Regions from separate parts of the Homo sapiens genome. Here regions 2, 3, 4 and 5 are each reported to be linked to region 1. The links are microRNA targets in miRTarBase. Many come from high-throughput screens and were not tested one by one. Region 1 holds a microRNA gene; each other region holds the end of a gene's coding sequence.

Region 1 (4,000 bases):
GGAGAAACCCCATCTCTACTAAAAATACAAAATTAGCCAGGCGTGGTGGCACCTGCCTGTAATCCCAGCTACTCAGGAGGCTGAGGCAGGAGAATCACTTGAACCCGGGAGGCAGAGGTTGCAGTGAGCTGAGATCACGTCACTGCATTCCAGCCTGGGCGACAAGAGCGAGACTGTCTCAAAAAAAAAAATTCCATTTTATAACATTTGAATATTCTCTCATCATACTGGTTATCTCTTACTTTTTGGTTGGTATTTAAGCCCGGCATTCCCCCAGGAAGGGGAGGTGTGGCCGACGATGGCTCCTGAGGGCCAGCCGTCTGCCCTTCTCCAGCCAGGCCTCACGCAGAGCACGTAAGCCCAGGCACTGGTGACATGCTTACCCACCCAGATGAGGAGCTCACAGGCAGGGATCGTTGAGCCGAGTTGGAGGGTGGAGCAGGTTGGCTCCGCGTGTCTGGGACCTGGCAAGTCCTGAGTCCTTGCAAATCCCGCTCTGGGCAGGTGAGTGTGGCTGTGAAGTGCCTGAAGCCCGATGTCCTGAGCCAGCCAGAAGCCATGGACGACTTCATCCGGGAGGTCAATGCCATGCACTCGCTCGACCACCGAAACCTCATCCGCCTCTACGGGGTGGTGCTCACGCCGCCCATGAAGATGGTGAGTACTGCGGGCGGGAGGGGGCGGGCAGGGAGAGGGCTCCGGTCCCATATGTGTGGTTCGGTTCCTCTCTCCATCCTAAGGTCAGAGGCGCCCTAGATCCTACTTTGGTCCCCCAACCTGATGGAGTAAAGGGGTCCACAGGGGCCCAGCCTGGTACGGGCTGTGTCTGCTGCGGTCCAGTCCGGGTCTGTCTCTGGATTTTGCTGGTGCTCAGTGTCAAGAGAGTTACTCCCATGGGAGGGGCTGGCCACTGAGTTTAATTTGGGGAATTTATGTTTTATTTATCTATTTATTTTGAGATGGAGTCTCACTTTGTCGCCCAGGCTGGAGTGCAATGGCATGATCTAGGCTCACTGCAACCTCGGCCTCCTGGGTTCACGCGATATTCCTGCCTCAGGCTTCCAAGTAGCTGGGATTACAGCCGTGCGCTACCATGCCTGGCTAATTTTTGTATTTTTAGTAGAGACGGGGTTTCACCATGTTGGCCAGGCTGGTCTCAAACTCCTGACCTCAAATGATCCACCCACCTCGGCCTCCCAAAGTGCTGGGATTACAGGCGTGAGCCACCACGTCCAGCTGAGTTTTGGAATTTCTAGCCACTGCCTCTTTGGGCTCCTTCTCTCTAGGCATCAGTTTCCCAAATTGCCTCGAGGGAGAGGCCTGAGAAACTGCAGGACTCCTAGAGGTCCCCAGACAGCAGGCCAGGAAGGTGCGTGCAGCCTGGCTCTGGAAAGCCTTCAGGAAGGGGACTGGGGGCCCAGCGTGGGCTGCTGAGAAGGGGCAGGGTCCTCCAGCTCATTCCTCCTGCCTCCTCCGTGGCCTCAGGTGACAGAGCTGGCACCTCTGGGATCGTTGTTGGACCGGCTACGTAAGCACCAGGGCCACTTCCTCCTGGGGACTCTGAGCCGCTACGCTGTGCAGGTGGCTGAGGGCATGGGCTACCTGGAGTCCAAGCGCTTTATTCACCGTGACCTGGCTGCCCGCAATCTGCTGTTGGCTACCCGCGACCTGGTCAAGATCGGGGACTTTGGGCTGATGCGAGCACTACCTCAGAATGACGACCATTACGTCATGCAGGAACATCGCAAGGTGCCCTTCGCCTGGTGAGGGGCAGGTGCTGCCAGCTCACAGAGTCCCTGCAGACCCAGGCCTCAAAGCTTCTGGGGCTTTCTGGACCCACCACAGCCCCTGGTTTTGCTTGGGCCTGCCCTTGTCTGTTCTAAGCCTGGGGTGCCCTCCTTTGCACCCATTCGCTCACCATCCATCTAGGAATTCTTGAGGGCCCACGTGCCAGGGTCTGGGTGCTGGAAATCACAGGGATACATGCTGTGGGACTCTCCAAGGGGCTTTGCTGGGTGGGGTGATACGGGGATAGATGCTGTGTCCTCTCCAAGGGGCATTGTTGGGGGTCGTGTTTCAGGGATAGATCCTGTGTCCTCTCCAAGGGGCATTGCTGGCGGGGGGGTGTTATAGGGATAAATGCTGTGTCCTCTCCAAAGGGCGTTGCTGGGGGGGGGGTGTTACAAGGATAGATGCTGTGTCCTCTTCAAGGGGCATCGCTGGGGGGGTGTTACAGGGATAGATGCTGTGTCCTCTTCAAGGGGCATTGCTGGGGGGGGTGTTACAGGGATAGATGCCGTGTCCTCTCCAAGGGGCGTTGCTGGGGGGGGTGTTAGAGGGACAGATCCTGTGTCCTCTCCAAGGGGCATCGCTGGGGGCGGGTGTTACAGGGATAGATGCTGTGTCCTCTCCAAGGGGCACTGCTGGGGGGGTGTTACAGGGATAGATGCTGTGTCCTCTCCAAGGGGCACTGCTGGGGGGGTGTTAGAGGGACAGATCCTGTGTCCTCTTCAAGGGGCATTGCTGGCGGGTGGTGTTAGAGGGATAGACACTGTGTCCTCTCCAAGGGGCATCGCTGGGGGCGGGTGTTACAGGGATAGACGCTGTGTCCTCTCCAAGGGGCATTGCTGGGGGGGTGTTACAGGGATAGATGCTGTGTCCTCTCCAAGGGGCACTGCTGGGGGGGTGTTACAGGGATAGATGCTGTGTCCTCTCCAAGGGGCACTGCTGGGGGGGTGTTAGAGGGACAGATCCTGTGTCCTCTTCAAGGGGCATTGCTGGCGGGTGGTGTTAGAGGGATAGACACTGTGTCCTCTCCAAGGGGCATCGCTGGGGGCGGGTGTTACAGGGATAGACGCTGTGTCCTCTCCAAGGGGCATTGCTGGGGGGGTGTTACAGGGATAGATGCTGTGTCCTCTCCAAGGGGCATTGCTGGGGGGCGGGTGTTACAGGGTTAGATGCTGTGTCCTCTCCAAGGGGCATTGCTGGGGGGGGTGTTACAGGGATAGATGCTGTGTCCTCTCCAAGGGGCATTGCTGGGGGGGGTGTTACAGGGATAGATGCTGTGTCCTCTCCAAGGGGCATTGCTGGGGGGGTGTTACAGGGATAGATGCTGTGTCCTCTCCGAGGGTCATTGCTGAGTTAGGTGATACAGGGATATATGCTGTGTCCTCTTCAAGGGGCATTGCTGGGGGGGTGTTACAGGGATAGATGCTGTGTCCTCTCCGAGGGGCATTGCTGGGGGGCGGGTGTTACAGGGTTAGATGCTGTGTCCTCTCCAAGGGGCATTGCTGGGGGGGGGGGTGTTACAGGGATAGATGCTGTGTCCTCTCCGAGGGTCACTGCTGAGTTAGGTGATACAGGGATATATGCTGTGTCCTCTTCAAGGGGCATTGCTGGGGGGGTGTTACAGGGATAGATGCTGTGTCCTCTCCAAGGGGCATTTCTGTGGGGAGGTATTCAAAGGTTTCCTAAAACATCAGGGAAGTTCGCCAGGGAAAGACTCGTTGGTAAGCATGTTCTAGGGAGAGCTAGTGGTAGACAGGCCCAGGCCACAGCAGGCCTTGTAGATGGGCCAGGGCTGCTTACCTGTGCACTAGGGGTGGTACTTGGCCCTGCCCTGGCCCCTGTGTGGGCTTATCCTCTGCTGAGACCATTGTGGTTCTCTGGTGCCAGAGGCACCCAGAGGTCTGTGATCTGCCTGCTTTGAGGCGGGAAGGGTTGTTCCAGTTCTGCTTTCCCAAGCGGTGGCTGTGGGCAACCCTTATGATCCAGGACGCATGGTCATCTTAACGAGCAGCTGGCTTTACACCCAGGGCGAGCAGAGGTCTTAAATTATGCCCGTTGTCCTGGAGTAATTTAGAGCAGCCTCTTTTGTATTCAGGCATCCTGGTTTGCATGGTAAGGTATGAATATAGTTGCCTTTAAACAGCACGATGAAGTGGGCGGGTTATTGTTCTCATTTCACCAAGGAGGATAATGAACCTTAGCGATCTCGAGT
Region 2 (4,145 bases), not on the chromosome of region 1:
TATTCTTCAGGACTCTTGGAGAAAGCACCTGGGGTGAAGCGACTAAGCTCACTGGATGACAAGATCCCCCACAAGTCACCATGCCCAAGACGTACCATCTGGCTGTCTCGAAGCCAGTCAGATATCTTTTCCCGTAAGCCCCCACGTACAGTGAGTGTCTTGGACCCATACTACCGGCCACGAGATGGTGCTGCCCGCACCCCCAAAGTCAACCCTTTTAGTGCTCGCCAGGACCTCATGGGGGGCAAGATCAAGTTTTTTGACCTGCCCAGCAAGTCTGTCATCTCTCTGGTATTTGACCTGGATGCACCAGGGCCCGGAACTATGCCCCTGGCTGACTGGCAGGAGCCCCTGGCCCCACCTATTCGCCGGTGGCGTTCCTTGCCTGGTTCGCCTGAGTTCTTGCATCAAGAGGCTTGTCCATTTGTGGGCCGGGAAGAATCGCTATCTGATGGGCCCCCACCACGCCTAAGTAGTCTCAAGTACAGAGTTAAAGAGATCCCACCATTCCGGGCATCTGCCCTACCAGCTGCTCAAGCCCATGAGGCTATGGACTGCTCCATTCTCCAGGAAGAAAATGGTTTTGGGTCCAGGCCCCAGGGGACCAGTCCATGCCCTGCGGGTGCTTCTGAGGAGATGGAGGTAGAAGAAAGGCCAGCAGGCTCAACTCCAGCCACCTTCTCCACCTCAGGCATAGGCCTGCAAACCCAGGGAAAGCAGGATGGGTGAGGGGGTTTAGTCCCTGCCTCACCTTGGGGATGGACCTTCAGCTGAAACCATATGGCCCCCTAGGTGCACAGCCTTGATTCTTCCCTGGAGCCTACAGAGCAGGCAGGCTAGGCCAAGCCAGGCTCAACTTCTGGGCTCCCAGTGCCCATTGGCTGTGTATGACGGGAGGCAGCAGTGAGAGGCCTTCCTAGTTAGGGCCAACAGCTGATACCAAGCCTCTGAAATCCAGCAAGGAGGTCTGCCTCCCACCAGACCCTCTCCAGTGTACTTCCCCAGATAGGACCAGAGGATGTCTAGTTCTAGGCTGAGCTGGCAGGCAGCTATTACCCCGGTTCTTTCCCCACCCCAGGTCTGTCTCTTGCCTTTTCTTGGGGCATATAAGCTACTGAGTGGAACATGGAGCTGATCAAGAGGCCGTAATGGTCATGGCTGTTTCCCAGACCTGAATATTGGGGTGCTTCTTGCCAGTATTCTAAGACATTTGAGTAATTGCTGTTTGCACTTACTGCATGGTCAGACCACGTCACTACATTTCTATGCAAGGGGACAGCAAGGCAGCGTGGTGGTCATGGCTCTTAGCTAACCTATTCAAAGACCTTTTCCTGTTGATTAATCTATTTTCATATTTATAAAGGAGTCTTAATGTTCTGCCCCATAAGACTTTCAACCTTGTGGTTGGGAGTGGGGCTGGTTTTGTAGGCCCTAGGGCCTGCTTCTATGTATTTATCAACATGTGATACATTCAATTGGTTAAATGGTTTATACAGGGACTGATTTGCTTCCCTTCCTGCCATGGCTGGAGCTTTGGGAACAGTCTGTCCTTACAGAGCTGCAATAAGAAATAACCAAAGATGAAGCTGGTCAAATATTTTCATAACTTGCTTCTGTTGATTTTTTTTTTTGTAAAACTTTCCCAAGACATTTTCAGACTTAAAAATAAAGTCAGTGTTACAGGTGCTGGTCAGCCTTCTTACTTGTACCTCAAACACTGGGATAAAGGAGGCGGTCCAGGGCAATGCAGTGATGTCTGTCAAGACATTCCCCCTCCCCTAAACTCAGTAGCAGTTGAGGATGACATTTCAGGCTAGAGAGACCCAAAATACCTCTGTTCCACCTGAGAGCAAGGTGGAAGTTGCATCAGCTACTGCCCCAAGTGAGCTTCATCTTCTGATTGTGGGCTTTGGAGGAACGAGAGAACTGGCTCTTGGCCACTGTGAGGGGTACAGCTTTGCCACTCAAATATACCTTATTGTGGCATTCAGGGAGCCAGGGTCCAGAGCTGCAGGGCTGCGGTCCCTGGCTCACTTCCACATAGGCCATCACATAACCTGTCATAAAGGCATCAAAACCAGCCCGGTGCAATCCATCCCCAGGCACTGGGTTAGGACTGGCTTGGCTCCCTGGCACTTCTGAGGTAGCTCTATCAGCTATTTCAGGCCTTGCTGCCTTAATCCCCATCTCTAAGTCATTTTTGTTGCCTTGCTTGGAGTGAGGCAGGTTCCTAGTTTCATCGGCAGCCACCTCCTGCTCGGTTTCTTCAGGCTTGATGCTATCCCCACAGACCTGCTTCTTGGGAGGACCATCCTTAGCTTCCCCAGAGGTCTGTGTCCCCGGTAGGTTCAATAAAGCCCTCTTCCGTTTTTCCCTACGTCGTCGCCGTCGCCGCTTGTCCTCTGCCGCAGCCTCATCAGTGTCAATGATAAGGTCAATATCGTGAGACTGAGGACACTGTGGTCCCAGGGGGCACCAGCCATAAGCCTAGGGGTGGGAAAGAGGCTTAGAAAGAGGCTCCAGGCATCAGAACCTTCCCTCCCAAGAAACAGGTGGGTGCTCTCACCGAGAAGTTGTCACAGATGCTGGTGGGATGAGGACGGTGGGTTGCTGGGGGCAGGCAGCAGCGGTAATCAATATGGTCCCTCATGCTGGAAGGATAGTTGCAGAACTCCAGGGTAAGGTGTGGGCTGCCAGCTGCCCGCTGCTTCCCATTTTCCCGTTCACTGCAACAGCGCAAGAGGGTAATGGTCCACTAGCATATAAGCTCCATAAGAGCAGGGTTTTGTGGTCTGTTTTGTTCACTGCTGAATCCTCAGCACCTAAAACACTGCCTGGGCACATGGTAGGAGCTCAATAAATATCTTAAGTGAATGAAATAAACTCGTATCAGGCCCCACCCCTTTCCCTCAACCATTTCCTCACCATTTCCGGAAGGCATATTCTAAGTAGGAGGCCACGAAACGGGCATGAAACTCAGCAGCATATTTGGTGTCATAAATGCCTGCTGGGAACATCTCACACAGGTCAGCGGTGAAGGTTCCCAGACTCTCAGGGAGGTGTGCATAGAAGTTCTGGTACAGGAACACCAAGTCTATAAGGCCATTGTGTAGCACCAGGGGCCGGCGGGCTCGGATTAGCTCCAGGAATAGGGTCCGTACTGACTGGCTCTGGCTCTCATCACCCTAGATGAAAGTAAAGGGGTCAATGAGGAGGACAGAGTCCCCCAGGGAGCCTCTTCTGCTGGGCACTTATCCCAGACTTCCCCACTTGGAACGCTCTCTCTCTACCTTACCCAATGCTGCCCACCCTCCTCATACCAGTCTTGTTTCCCAAGCCCTGTCACTAGTGATTCCCCATACTCCCTAAGAAGCAGATTCTCCCCAGACATCCAGCCTAGGGTAGGAAGAAATAAAGTCACAGAAAGGGCAGACTCAAGGCTAGGGAGGCTAGAGGCCTACCTTGTCATTGCCCTTATGGTAGGGGATGCCTTGGGCATACTGCTGGTTGAAGTTGAAGCCATGCTGTATCAGGAACTGCACAGACTTTGGTTCTATGACATACTCCTCCATGCACAGCAGAGTGAGATTGAACACTTGAGCCAGATAGGAATGTTCACCCTGGGAGAAAGAGAAGTCTGCTATATCAAGATTTCAGAGAGCCAAGCTAGGAGGATGCAAAAGCTTAAGAATGATACAATGGACTCTGGGGACTCAGGGGGGAAAGGATGGAGGCAGGTGAGGGATAAAAGACTACGCATTGGGCACAGTGTACACTGGGTGATAGGTGCACCAAAATCTCAGAAATTGCCACTAAAGAACTTACTCATTTAACCAAACACCACCTGTTCCCCATAAACCTATTCAAATAAAAAAAAAAAAACTATCAAGTCAAAAAAAAAGATTTGGGAGAGAAATGCTTCCTATCTGATGTTCCCTAGAATCTCTCTACCCTCCACCCCACAGCCACACCTAGGATTGGGGTGAGATCAGCTCATACCTTGTCTGGCTGCCGCTTGAAGCAGGCGAGGCCCAGGGAAAGGATAGAACGGGTCCTGGCAGCATGACACACGGCCTTGTAACGTTCCTCAATGCACCTTGGGGTTGGGTATGGGGGTTGCTGTGGCTAGGAGTTAGCCTTATGAA
Region 3 (4,145 bases), not on the chromosome of region 1:
ACTGCACTCCAGCCTGGGTGACACAGCGAGACTCTGTCTCAAAAAAAAAAAAAATTGCTGTTTGGCAGGGTGCATTGGCTCACACCTGTAATCCTAGCACTTTGGATGGCCAAGGTGGGAGGATCGCTTGAGCCCAGTTTGAAACTGGCCTAGGCAATGTAGTAAAACCCCATCTCTACAAACAATTAAGAAATCTGCTGAGTGTGGTGGTGCATGCCTGCAGTCCCAGCTACAGGGGCGGCTGAGGCAGGAGAATTGCTTGAACCTGGGAGGTTGCAGTGAACCACGTGACAGAGCAAGTCTCCATCACAAAAAAAAAAAAGAAAAAGAAAAAAGAAAAATTCCAACCAAATGCACTGTGTGGATCTTGTTTAGATTATGATTACTATGAAACAAATAGAAAACAAAATTTATGAGGCAACCCAGAACATCTGAACACTAGGTATTTGATGATATCTGTTTAGATGTGATAATGACAATATAGTTCTACTTGAGATTTAACAAAATTAATTTTTCCCGTTTCATCACAGAAATTCAGTGAAAGTAGGCCAGGCACGGTGGCTCATGCCTGTAATGCCAGCATTTTGGGAGACTGAGGCGGGCAGATTACTTGAGGTCATGAGTTTGAGACCAGCCTGGCCAACATGGTAAAACCCCATCTCTACTAAAAATACAAAAATTAGCCGGGTGTGGTAGCGCACACCTGTCATCCCAGCTACTTAGAGGGCTGAAGCATGAGAACTGCTTGAACCCGGGAGGCGGAGGTTGCAGTGAGCCAAGATTGTGCCACTGCACTCCAGCCTGGGCGACAGAGCAATACTCCATCTCAAAAAGAAAAAGAGGGCCAGGCGCAGTGGCTCATGCCTGTAATCCCAGCACTTTGGGAGGCCGAGGTGGGCGGATTATGAGGTCAGAAGATCGACACCATCCTGTCTAACATGGTGAAACCCCATCTCTACTAAAAATACAAAAAAGTAGCTGGGCAAGATGGCGCACACCTGTAGTCCCAGCTACTCGGGAGGCTGAGGCAGGAGAATGGCGTGAACCGTGGAGGTGGAGGTTGCAGTGAGCCGAGATCACGCCATTGCACTCCAGCCTGGGCGACAGAGCGAGACTCCGTCTCAAAAGAAAAAAAAAAAAAAGAAAAGAAAAGAAATTAAGTGAAATTAGCTTTTCTTTTTCTTTACTGCATTTCCCAGTGGAGAAGAATATGAACAACCAACCTCAGGGCTACTGCCCTGCTTTGAACTCAGGCTCAGCAGTTTTACCTGCCATTGCTTTCACACTATCAGTGCACAGCAAAAATGTGAAATGACAGCTTAGTATGATTGTGAAAATGGTTTTGTCCCAGTGGACAAACATGGTTATATATATATCCAGGGAAGGAGAATGGTGGGGAGGTAGATGGGAGTACCAGCAAAAATATATGACTCATGTTTGAAAATGTCCACAATACATCCTTAAAGGTTACTCAGAAAAATAAGTGGCTGGGCACAGTGGCTCATGCCTATAATCTCAACACTTTGGGACGCCAAGGTTCGAGACCAGCCTAGGCAACACAGTGAGACCCTGTCTCTGCAAAAAATAAAAAAAATCAGGAATGGTGGCACATGCCTGTGGTCCCAGCTACTTGGGAGGCTGGGGTGGGAGGATCACTTGAGCCCAGGAGGTCGAGGCTGCCAAGTGAGCAGTGATTACAACACTGACTCCAGCCTGGGCAAAAGAGTGAGACTCTGTCTCAAAAAAAAAAAAAGGATTATCTTCCTTATTTCACATCAATTATGAATGCTGCAAAACCGTAAAGGATGTACTAAAAAGTACATCATGTATAAACTAGCTAATGATGCCATCTGTTAAAATCAAGCTTATATGATTTCTAGTCTAGTCCAGCCCTGATTAATCAATTTGAAGGTTTTTTTTCTTTTCTTTTTTTTTTCTGAGACAGAGTCTTGCTCTGTCACCCAGGCTGGAGTGCAGTGGTGCAATCTCGGTTCACTGAAACCTCTGCCTCCCAGGTTCAAGCGATTCTCGTGCCTCAGCCTCCCCCAGGTAGCTAGAATTACAGGCGCATGTCACCACACTTGGCTAATTTGTGTATTTTTAGTAGAGATGGGGTTTCGCCATGGGCCCAGGCTAGTCTCAAACTCCTGACCTCAAAGGATCCGCCCTCCTCAGCCTCCCACAGTGCTGGGATCACAAGCGTGAGCCACCACAGCTGGCTGCAAGTTTTAAAAATGTCAGCTACATTTCTGGGCTGGGTTTATACCCAGGTGGCTTCTCCACCTTGGCACTATTGACATTTGAGCTAGAGAATCCTTTGTTGAGGAGCTGTCCCGGGCACTAAAGGATGTTGAGCAGCGTCCCTGGCCTCTACCCACTACATGACGGCGGCACCCTTCCTCCAGGCACAGCAACCAAAAATGTCCCTAGATGTCACCAAATGTGCCCTGGAGGCAAAAGCACCACCAGTTAAGAACCTCTGGCTCAGCTGGGCATAGTGGCTCATGCCTGTAAACCCAGCACTTTGGGAGGCCGAGGTGGGTGGATCACGAGGTCAGGAGTTTGAGATCAGCCTGGCCAACACCCCATTTCTACCAAAAATACAAAAATTAGCTGGGCGTGGTGGCAGGTGCGTGTAATCCCAGCTACTCGGGGGACTAAGGCAGGAGAATTGCTTTAACCTGGGAGGCGGAGGTTGTGGTGAGCAGACTGCGCCATTGCACTCCAGCCTGGGTGACGGAGCGAGACTCCATCTCAGACAAAAAACAAAAAAAAGAACTTCTGGCTCATAGCAACACCAGATGTTTTTCAAGAGGAGCTGTGACACTCCCCTGCACGGAATGCTGTGAAATTTCGTGGGGGCTGGTCACGTAATTGGGTTGGGGGTGTGGTTGAAATGTGGGCAGGAGCCATGCATGCTGCCAAGATGGTGAGGAACAGAACTGCCCCCAGTGGACCACATCAACAGATGTGGAATAAGCAGTTTTCAGGGTATGAACTGAGAACCTAACTGGACTTCACACATAAGCACAAACTAATTGCTGCATGCTTGGAATTTACCCAGAATTTCCCAGAAATGCAATAGCATATTATGTTGTTAAAAACTTTTCCAAGAGTTAGTCACTACTTTGGAAGGTCACGTTCCACATGGGAAGGCCCCTCACAGTATTGCCATGGTCAACATCATACCCTCTACCAGTCCACAAGCAACAGGCTATTGCCCTAGGTCTCCTGGCAAAATTGGGCCCACAGTGACAAGGAGAAATACTGCACCAAGTCAGTACACGTTACTCTACAATTTACTCTACCATAAATTACTTTCATTTTAATGATCCTTTACAAAATGGGGCCGCATATTGATTTTTTTTGACATTACACAGGTGGGTAGGTTATATTACCTGTGAACTCACTGTGGTGTAATGGAAGGAATGTCACAAAATATGTCGCTAAAGAGGGCACTGAGTTTGATAGATTTGGGACCAACCAACCTCGGGTGCTTGGGAAGCATCATTTCCTTAGAAAGTCAGAAGTCACCCATGACATTTCTACCCCCAGCCCCTCCTTCCATGAGTACACTATGTGGACTTACCACATTTTTTACTTGTGGTTAAAAGTCATCAGCAAAGTTTCTCTCCTATGTGGATTCTCTGATGTCAAATAACATGGAAGCACCCACAGAAGGCTCTTCCACCCCAATAACGTGCACAGGGTTTTTCTCTTGCATGATTTTTTGGATGTCAAACAAAGCCAGGGCTCTGCTTTCCGGCTGCCCTGCCTTTGCTCCGCCTGCAGAGCTCTTTCTGGAGTTCGGGTGTTGATGCTGAACCAGGTGTGAGTTCCTGCTCGAGGATTGTTCACGCCGCCGGCTTCGCCCATGGGGCTGCTCCTCTCTGGTGTGAGTTATCTGGTGCCGGATGAGGTGAGAGCTCTGAATGAAACACTTCCCACACTGATTACATTTGAAGGGTCTGTCGCTTCGGTGAGTCCTCTCATCTTGACTCAAAGGTGGGTCACAGCCCAGGGCTTCTGTCCATTCATGCTTTGTGAGAGCTGGCGTCTGCTCAAAGATCAGCCTCTGGCGGCACTCAAAGGGCTTCTCCCCCGCGTGCTTCCGCTGGTGCTGGGCCAGGGATGAGCTGTGCCTG
Region 4 (4,145 bases), not on the chromosome of region 1:
TTTTTGCCTCAGGAAGGATAAAGCACATGTTTGTTTCTGCTTTCGTTTTCTTTTTTCTTTTTTTCACGAAGCCTTATGGAGAAGTATGTTTCTGCTTTCTTTCCTGAGGAAGCCTGGCTTCTGGGCCACGGGACTGATCCTGTCCACATCCTCTTTCCCTCCATTCTCCATCGTGTCTCTGCCCCCGTCTCACCCCACCCCGTGCCCCTCTCTGCCTCAGCTTCCCCTCTTCCCCTGCAGTGAGTTTCCTGCGCAGCGGCACTAAGCTCATCTTCCGCCGGAGGCCTAGGCAGAAGGAAGCTGGCCTGAGCCAATCACACGATGACCTCTCCAACGCAACGGCCACGCCCAGTGTCCGAAAGAAGGCCGGCAGCTTTTCTCGCCGCCTTATCAAGCGCTTTTCCTTCAAATCCAAACCCAAGGCCAATGGTAACCCCAGCCCCCAGCTCTGAGGACCCAGCTCTGAAAGGGCACGAGTTCTCTCAGCCCATTCCCCACCTCCCCTTCCATACCCCTTCCTGGATCTCCAGTGCCTGGGCCAGGAAAGCCCTCTGGGTTCCGGGAAGCCCCGTCCACCCTGGGCCATGGGGCCGGTTGGAAGGATACTTGGAACGGGAAGCACATGAGAGGTGGGCACCCGGTGCCGAGGACATGGACGAGGGACTGGTGGCTGGGAGGGAGAGGAGGGCCCTGTCCGGCATGTGTGGGTATTCCCCAGAAGCATTTGCCTCCTGCTGAGCCTGGTCCCTGAGCGGAGTCCCAGGGTGCTCAGCTCTTCAGCTGACCCTTCTTCCCTTATTTATTCTCTTTTCTATTTATATGTGTGGCTTAGGACCCTCCGTGAACAGATGATAGAGGGCATCTCTCCCAGGTGACCCTTCTTTTCTGTCCCAGGAGGGTGGGTAATTCCCTTTGGGATGGGGCTCCCACACCTCCCTCAGGTCCCCACTCAGACCAGCACCAGTGTCTGCCTCTGAGAATGTTGGCAGCTCACAGAGAGCAGGGCCGGCCCGGGATGGGGGGCAGGTACTCCCCACCTTCCTGCCTCCCCTCCTGCTCCTCATCCCTCCCTCCCCCTTTATTACCGTTTTTTGTACTTGATGCCTTCTCTGTGAGCAGTGGCTCTGTGGGAAGGAGGGAGCCGGGAGCCTGGTGGGAAGCCTTCCCCAGAGAGATGGCTTTAGGGGCTTTATTTAAAGACTGTGATGATGGAGCCACGCAAGGCTGCACCTCTGTGTGTTGGGAGACGATGATGATGTCCATTGCTGTGTGATGGCTTGGAATTTAATTTATTAAAGTCAAATTGGAGTTTATAAACTGGACAACTGGTTATCCTTTGAAAGGCAGTAGGCAGCCAGGCTGTGACATGGATGGTGTGGGAGGATGAGACAGGGGCCCGGATAATGAGGTTGGGTAGATGACACACATTGTGGATCTGCTAAGAAGTTCCTGCAGGGAAGAAGGGGTGTGCAGAGAAAGGATGGAAGAGACAGGAGGCTCTGGAGTATGAAATTGTAGCAAAAAACTCAATCAACTAGTACAGGTTAGTCTTCATTCCCCTTTCTGGAACAGGCTGCTCCTTCTAGGATGTAATGGAGATCAAAGCTTGGACCCTGTAACTAGACTGCCTGCCTGGGTTTGAGTCCCAGCTCTTCTAATTACTTGTGTGACCTTGGGCAAGTTATGTAACCTCTAAGTGCCTCAGTTTTCTCATCTGTAAAATGGGAACTTCAATCATCATGGCTATCATTTGGTTGTGGATGAGAAGTAAATGAAGTGCTGAGTGTTAACTGTTGCCTCAGAAGAAACTGGGAGGGGGAAGTCTTAGAAGTGTTTCAACATAATAAAAGCTCTCTCATTCTGAAATGTGGGCAAATTTCAGGGATTGATAGATCCTAGCAAACTGTGTCCCTGGTTCCCGTGCTTGAGATCTTATACAGGACTTGAACCAGGTAAGCTGCTACAGGATATTGGGCAGAATGCAGGACCAGGAAGCAAGAAAACTGAGTCTGCCACAGACAAACCAAGTGATCTTGAGCAGGCAACTTCTCCTTTGGGGACCTCAGTTTCCTCATATCTAAAATAAGGGTGACCTGGATAAACATTCAGGTCACTTCCAGCCTTGACATTCTATGACTACCTATATCTCAGGGTGTTTAGGGCACATGCCTTTGGGTAGATAGCATGTGGAAATTGTTACTATTCCCCATGCTCCTGTCCACACTACTCACCAAATATGAGATATCCGGGAAGAATGGAGGGTATAGATTTTTTTTTTCAATTAGATAATTTAGTTTTATATATTTGGGGGGACAAGTGCAGGTTTCTTACATGCATATATTGCATGCATAGAGGTGAAGTCTGGGCTTTTTTTAGTGTGCGCATCGCCCAAATAGTGAACATCATACCCAATAGGTAGTTTTTCAACCCTCACCCTCCTCCCACCTTCTCACCTTTCATAGTCTCCGATGTCTTTTATTCCACTCTATATGTCCATGTATACCCATTATTTAGCTCCCACTTATAAATGAGAATATGCCATATTTGACTTTGTTTCTGAGTTATTTCACCGAGGATAATGGCCTCCAGTTCCACCCATGTTGCTGGAAAACACATGATTTCATTCTTTTTTATGGCTGAGTAGTATTCCACTGTGTGTGTGTGTGTTGGGCGATGATAATGATGTCCATTGCTGTGTGACAGCTTGGAATTTAATTTATTAAAGTCAAGTTGGAGTTTATAAACTGCATTTTCTTTATCACTCACTACATTAACTACGTTTTCTTTATCCAATCCTCCATTGATGGACACATCGATTTGGTTGATTTTTATGTAGTGAAATGTTCAATTCTAAGTCATGAAAATTCAAAGAGATTTTTCAAGCTGTTTCCCCAGTCTAAGAAATGTAACTCTTAGTGGTTCACAGAGGAACAGTTTTTCTACCAGTATGACACGACAACCAAACACAGTGAACTTGTGATTGCACAAGAAACTTTTGTTGATGGGAGAACAGGTATTCAGAGTTCTACAGGACCTGGGGAATGAGTAGATGGTAACTGGAATCTGTATTGAGCTTCCAGTACTGAGCTGCCCAGAGTTCCATGGAATCACATATTTTAGTGAAGAAGAGCCTGATCACGTTTCAAAAATAGGGAATTTTTAAATGAATGAAAAAAATACGAAACATATTTTCATCAACTTAATCCATTTCACACTTTCAGAAGGGATCCACAGCTTTTAATGAGTATGAATTATGCTTTCAGTTTTTGTGGCAGCTTTTAAAGAACAAATCTCAGGATATGTCTGAATTACCCAGCCAAAATTGTGGCTTGTTTTCAAGAGAAGCAGATTGAGATAGAAGTAAACTATGCTAGACAGAATGACACTGCTTTAAATTTTGGAAACATATATATGGATCCCAGAGCAATCCTGAAATTTTTGCTCTGTAACCTATGTTTGAGTTTACACAGCTCTGTGAATGAACTTTTTCTTCATAAAATTGCTAAATAAAGCTAAAAGCTATTTTCAGTGGTGTAAATCTGAATTAAAATGAGGATGGCATTTCATGAAGTACTACTATATGCATTTTTGAATGAATAAAGTTGGTAAGATATATTTTGTTACTTTTGAATTACATTTTTTAAAACGCTTTTTTTTTTTTTTTGAGACAGAGTCTCTCTCTGTTGCCCGGGCTGGAGTGCAGTGGAGTGATCTTGGCTCACTGCAACCTCTGCCTCTCAGGTTCAAGCGATTTTCCTGCCTCAGCCTCCTGAGTAGCTGGCACTACAGGCACCCACCACCACACCTGGCTAATTTTTGTATTTTTTGTAGAGATGGGGTTTCGCCATGTTGGCCAGGCTGGTTTCGAATTCCTGACCTCATGATCCGCCCGCCTCGGCCTCCCAAAGTGCTGGGATTACAGGCATGAGCCACCGCGCCCTGCAAAACCCTATTTTAAAATAGGGACCAAGTTATAACTCACTGTTGTTAAAACCAAAATTTATGCACAAGTATGACTTTACTATCTTAATGGCATTTTAAATTTTATTTTATATATATTGAACATTTAATGTGTTTTCTGATTGTACAAATTATATAGGTTTATTTTTAGATTAGAAGATACAGAAAACTACAATGCAATAAAA
Region 5 (4,145 bases), not on the chromosome of region 1:
GCAACAAGAGCAAAACTCCATCTCAAAAAAAAAAAGAAAAGAAAAAAGAAACCCACTTTCAGTTGGCAGCGTGGTTGAAAAGATGGCTGGCAGAACTTGATAGAAAAACTTGGCGGGGAGAGTGTAGGACAGGCTACTCTGCAATTTCTTTAGAATAGTGTTCCCTAAAGTGTGTTTTGTGGAATATTGGTATAACTTGAATAGATATTACTTGAAAAAAAGGGAGGTGGAGCAAATCTCGGAACAATTGAAACAAAGTTCAACAGGTTTCTTTCCTGTAGGACTTTTTAGAGCCTTTAGTATAATAATGTGCATGATGAAACTCTACTAACAAAACAGAATATGCAGTTAATCTTAGGCTAATTTGGGCATGGATTTTTTTTTTTTTTTTTGGTAGCATATCTTTCAACAGTGTGTTCCTTAGAAACCACTGTCTTAAAGGACTGTTGTCTTCCCAGCTCTGGAGGTGAGGTTCCAATCATCGTGCAGTTCTTAAGATTTTCTTCCTCTACCTAGAGAGGCGGGGTTTCTGTAGGGTTTGCAGAACTCTCTCCAGGTGTGAGGAGGGGGAGAGATGTTGGGCTCCCTGAGGGCAGTGATGCAGGGAACTCCACCAGAGCTGGTCAGAGCCCACTTCGCCTGTGTAACCAACCACTGGCTTCCCTATCTTCCACCTGGCCATGGGGTGATCTGCCAGTACGTGCAAACTCTCCAGCATTCCTGAACATGAACAAGGCACTCCCTTCCTGCTTCTAAACAGATGCCCCAGACCTCTCAGCAAGTGTGGCTAAAGAAGGTACCCTCTCGTCTGGAGCTGACAAGAAGGCCTGCCTCTCACTTCTGTGTGGAGATCAGCTGCCTGAGTTTCTTCTTGCCTGGGGGATTATGGTGCTGATCCCTGGGATTCAAGGCCGGGAATGGAGACAGGAAAGCAAAAGCCTTTGAGGGAGGTGGAGTATGGTGGACAAGAGGGACCAGATTCATAGCTTCCGCTGCGGTCGGGGAAGCTGTCAGGAGAGGGCAGTGCAGAGCTTCCTTGCCTTCTCTCCCTAGCTCTGCCTTACAACCGGCCGCACACAAGGTGAGTGTGCTGAAATTGGCTCTTCCTCCCCAGACAGGGCAGCTGAGCTCACGCAGGACGCACATCTACCTTGTCCCCTTCCCTGGGTAGTCAGGTGTATACTGAGGCCTCCAAATTTTGTCTGGCCTCTGGTCCCATGAAAAGAGCAAAGGATTGCCACAGCAACCACAGAAAGAGAATTGTGCACCAGGGTTACGGTAGGTAATAAGATTTACTGAAAACGTCTCGGCCACATTCAGTACTGGTTTGGTGGATACATCAGAAGGAGGTTGCATAACATTAGGCAGGTGGAGGGGCTGAGAGGAAGAGATGTGGGCACCTGTGTGCCAGTGTGTCCGTGCTGGGGGACGCCTGTCCAGGTGGTGAGTGGAACGGTGTGTGTGTGTGTCTGTGTGCGCGTGTTAACAAGAAAAACGAACCAGAAAAGGAAATGCATTTTATCCCACTGCACATTGCAAAAGTCTCACGCCAAAAAAGCTAGACTTTCCTCTATGTATGGCATCAAAAGGGAGTAAAAAATGATTGGATCACCCAGATTATAAATAAGGTTATTTGTTTCTCAAAAATCCTTATTAAAACATTAAATATCAGCTCTTTTGGGGGAGAAATACATTCATTTCAGGGAGACCTCGGAAGAGTGACCATCCTTTTGCTCTACCCCAACCAGGTGGGGGAGGGGAAGCCCCAGAGGGCCCAAGGGGTCCCCTCCAGTTGAGCCAGGTAGCCACTCACATCCTGCCACTGAAGGAGGTGGCCAATGCACAATTTACAAATGAAACTGCACGTCCATTAAATTAAACCCAATGGAAAACACACGTGTGACCTGTCCTGTCATTCACAGCCATGGGGTGAGAGGGAACCGGAGGAGAGGGTGCCAACCAAGGGGGTCTGGAAGGTGGGTGGGAGGGTATGTGTTAGGGTGGACAGTGGAGAGCCTCCTCCTCCTTCCAGGAGCCCCAGTTCCTCCAGGGCTGTGGATAGCAGGGTTAGAACAGCTGGGTGGGGTGTGTGGGATGGGCATCCCCGCAGGCTCTTGGGTGCCATTCTCTGGGCCCTCCCCCACATTTAGGATATTGATGGGAAGAGGGATGTAGCACCTTCTCCAACCCCTGGCTTCCCACTGGACTAGATGCTTTCCAATGTTTCTTCTGCCTTCCCTGAAGGACAGAATGAAGAAAGGAAGCTGGAGGCTGATGGAGCCAGGCTGGGAGCAAAGGGATGGCCGTGGCGACCTGCGGGCTGGAAAGATTCCCAGATAACCTGGTTTCACCTTCTCTGAAGGTCTATGGAGGGCGTGGAGCACTGAAGGTGGGAACATCTAGGGTAAAAAACCATTGTCCTGTTGTTAAAGGAGCTAAGTTCTGTGATCACCTAGGGACAGCTGTGGCCTCAAAGTCACCTCCATATGGTTCCTAGCCCAGGGTCTGCCATCTCCTTGGCTCTTGGAGTCAACCCAGAAGGGACTCCTCTTAACCTCCCACAGGTTGAGCCCACCAGCTTACAGTTGGTTTCCAGGAGAGAGTGAAGGGCACTGTGGCTCCCATCCCTTTCTCCCATGTCCATGGTTGCTGTGCGCAGAGACAGGGCCTTGGAGGGATGAGCTGGAGCCTGGTGGATTCCATCCCATTCTGATCTGCAAGATGTGATGCCTCAGGCCCTCCCACTCCTCTGGCCACTGGTTATGCTTTGGGGCTCCCTCCTGCCCTTGAATGTCTGTCAAAGGAGCTGAGAAACTTCTGGGGATGAAACTCAGTCCCCCTTTGTCTCTCCCCTTCCTTCTAAGTCTGCCCCCGGGCAAAGGCCTACTCTGCGAACAGCACCAATCTGCCTCAGTGCAGGGCTTGTAAACAACTCAAGTCCTTCCGTGGGTGGGGGCCATGGGTGCCATCTATCCTCAGGGATTTGGTGAGTCCAGATCTCACTCCTGTCTTTCCACACAGGCTGCTCGACTGGCCCCGCCAAACAGAGTCCTCGGCAGTTCCAGGGAAGTGGGGCTGGGGTCCTCATTGAAGCTCGGTGGTTGGGAAGGAACAGGTGTCTCCTTTGCCTTTCTTCAAGCTACTGATTTGGGGAAGCTAGGGCCCAACTCCCTCGGTGCTTCCTGCCCATGTCCCCTTCCCCCCCACCCTGAAGGCCTCCCGGCGACACTCCTCTCCTGCTCAGTGATCAGTGCCATCTGGGCTGCCCGACTACTCCAGGGAGTCACTGTGTTCCAAGCCCAGGTCGCTGACATTTGTCGTCTGCAGCTCGTCGACCTCCTCCTCCAGCTCCTCCTCCTCCTCCTCTTCCATCTCATCCTCATCCTCTTCTTCTGTCCCATCCAATGAGTCATCGTGTGCAGCCATCATAGCCTGCTGCATGGCCATGGTGGCACTGTCTGAGGACAGGGACTGCAGGTTGTCCAAGTTGATGGAACCTGCGAGAGAAAGCAAGGGTCAGGACGAGGCAGGGGCTGCTGGTCAGGGCCAGCACCTCTGTGTTGGACAGGGTTTAATGGACTGGCTCATAGAGCAGTGAACTCCTTGTTTTTAGAGCTGTCCAAGCCTGAGCTGGACAATGCCCTGGTATGAAGTCTCCCATCCATTCACTAGTCAGCTACTCCCTGCCCCATCTCAGGAAGCAGCACTCCCAGCCACCGTTCACTGCACATTTTCTTTATGTGTTGGCCACTTTTGACTTTCTAACAATTCTGTAAGGCAGGTATTATTATCCCCATTCTGTCTCAGACAGTTAAGTCATTAGCTCAAGATGACATTGTCAGCGATGACAGAGTTGGAATTTTCTCCCAGGCTGGTCCAGCCCCCTAAATCTGTTTTTTTTTTTCCCATCATAACCCATAAGATGGCTCATCACAAAGGAACCTGTGCACAACCATACACATACACGTGTGCATGAGGTTATGTGTGCACACACGCACACCTACGCTCCACTCCCCATACAGAGCTATCTTCATATGCCAAGCTATAAAATGCTTGGCTCATTGAATTATTCATTGTGCACTAGGCGACTGGCAATTAGAAAAGTGTATATGGAGGGTGTGATGGAGAGGCTGGGAAAACAGAGC

The links. The annotated mature microRNA hsa-miR-6829-3p reads UGCCUCCUCCGUGGCCUCAG and lies in region 1 at 1,466-1,485, shown strand. An mRNA with a match to its seed (bases 2 to 7 or 8) in the 3' UTR can be bound and repressed. Matches are read on the target gene's strand: a 7mer-m8 pairs with bases 2 to 8, a 7mer-A1 pairs with bases 2 to 7 and ends in A, and an 8mer does both.
Region 2: the mRNA of TESK2 is a reported target of hsa-miR-6829-3p. Seed matches in the 3' UTR shown: 7mer-A1 at 894-900.
Region 3: miRTarBase lists ZNF8 as a target of hsa-miR-6829-3p. Seed matches in the 3' UTR shown: 7mer-A1 at 2,006-2,012.
Region 4: miRTarBase lists C2CD2L as a target of hsa-miR-6829-3p. Seed matches in the 3' UTR shown: 7mer-m8 at 1,492-1,498.
Region 5: miRTarBase lists PKNOX2 as a target of hsa-miR-6829-3p. Seed matches in the 3' UTR shown: 7mer-m8 at 2,015-2,021.

Annotation. Positions count from the first base shown.
Region 1 is chr3:195,879,814-195,883,813 of GRCh38, reverse strand. It overlaps MIR6829 (microRNA 6829), which reads left to right and starts at 1,419; the gene lies at 1,419-1,485. It overlaps TNK2 (tyrosine kinase non receptor 2), which reads left to right. Exons shown (of 16, transcript NM_001382273.1): 5 at 505-657; 6 at 1,486-1,763. RefSeq lists an enhancer at 28-528.
Region 2 is chr1:45,341,424-45,345,568 of GRCh38, reverse strand. It overlaps TESK2 (testis associated actin remodelling kinase 2), which reads left to right. Exons shown (of 11, transcript NM_007170.3): 11 at 11-1,686. The coding sequence ends at 729. It overlaps TOE1 (target of EGR1, exonuclease), which reads right to left. Exons shown (of 8, transcript NM_025077.4): 4 at 4,000-4,096; 5 at 3,462-3,620; 6 at 2,926-3,185; 7 at 2,567-2,726; 8 at 1,596-2,487. The coding sequence ends at 1,867. Among named protein-coding and RNA genes, the nearest start is that of TOE1, 3.3 kb to the right of the region's middle. RefSeq lists an enhancer at 4,074-4,145.
Region 3 is chr19:58,295,026-58,299,170 of GRCh38, reverse strand. ZNF8 (zinc finger protein 8) reads right to left here. Exons shown (of 4, transcript NM_021089.3): 4 at 1-4,145. The coding sequence ends at 3,635. It overlaps ZNF8-ERVK3-1 (ZNF8-ERVK3-1 readthrough (NMD candidate)), which reads right to left. Exons shown (of 7, transcript NR_144447.1): 4 at 3,590-4,145. Among named protein-coding and RNA genes, the nearest start is that of ERVK3-1, 8.3 kb to the left of the region's middle.
Region 4 is chr11:119,115,805-119,119,949 of GRCh38, forward strand. It overlaps C2CD2L (C2CD2 like), which reads left to right. Exons shown (of 14, transcript NM_001290474.2): 14 at 241-2,740. The coding sequence ends at 452. Among named protein-coding and RNA genes, the nearest start is that of HINFP, 3.7 kb to the right of the region's middle.
Region 5 is chr11:125,430,518-125,434,662 of GRCh38, reverse strand. PKNOX2 (PBX/knotted 1 homeobox 2) reads right to left here. Exons shown (of 13, transcript NM_001382323.2): 13 at 1,274-3,497. The coding sequence ends at 3,271. Among named protein-coding and RNA genes, the nearest start is that of FEZ1, 64 kb to the left of the region's middle. RefSeq lists a silencer at 896-1,190.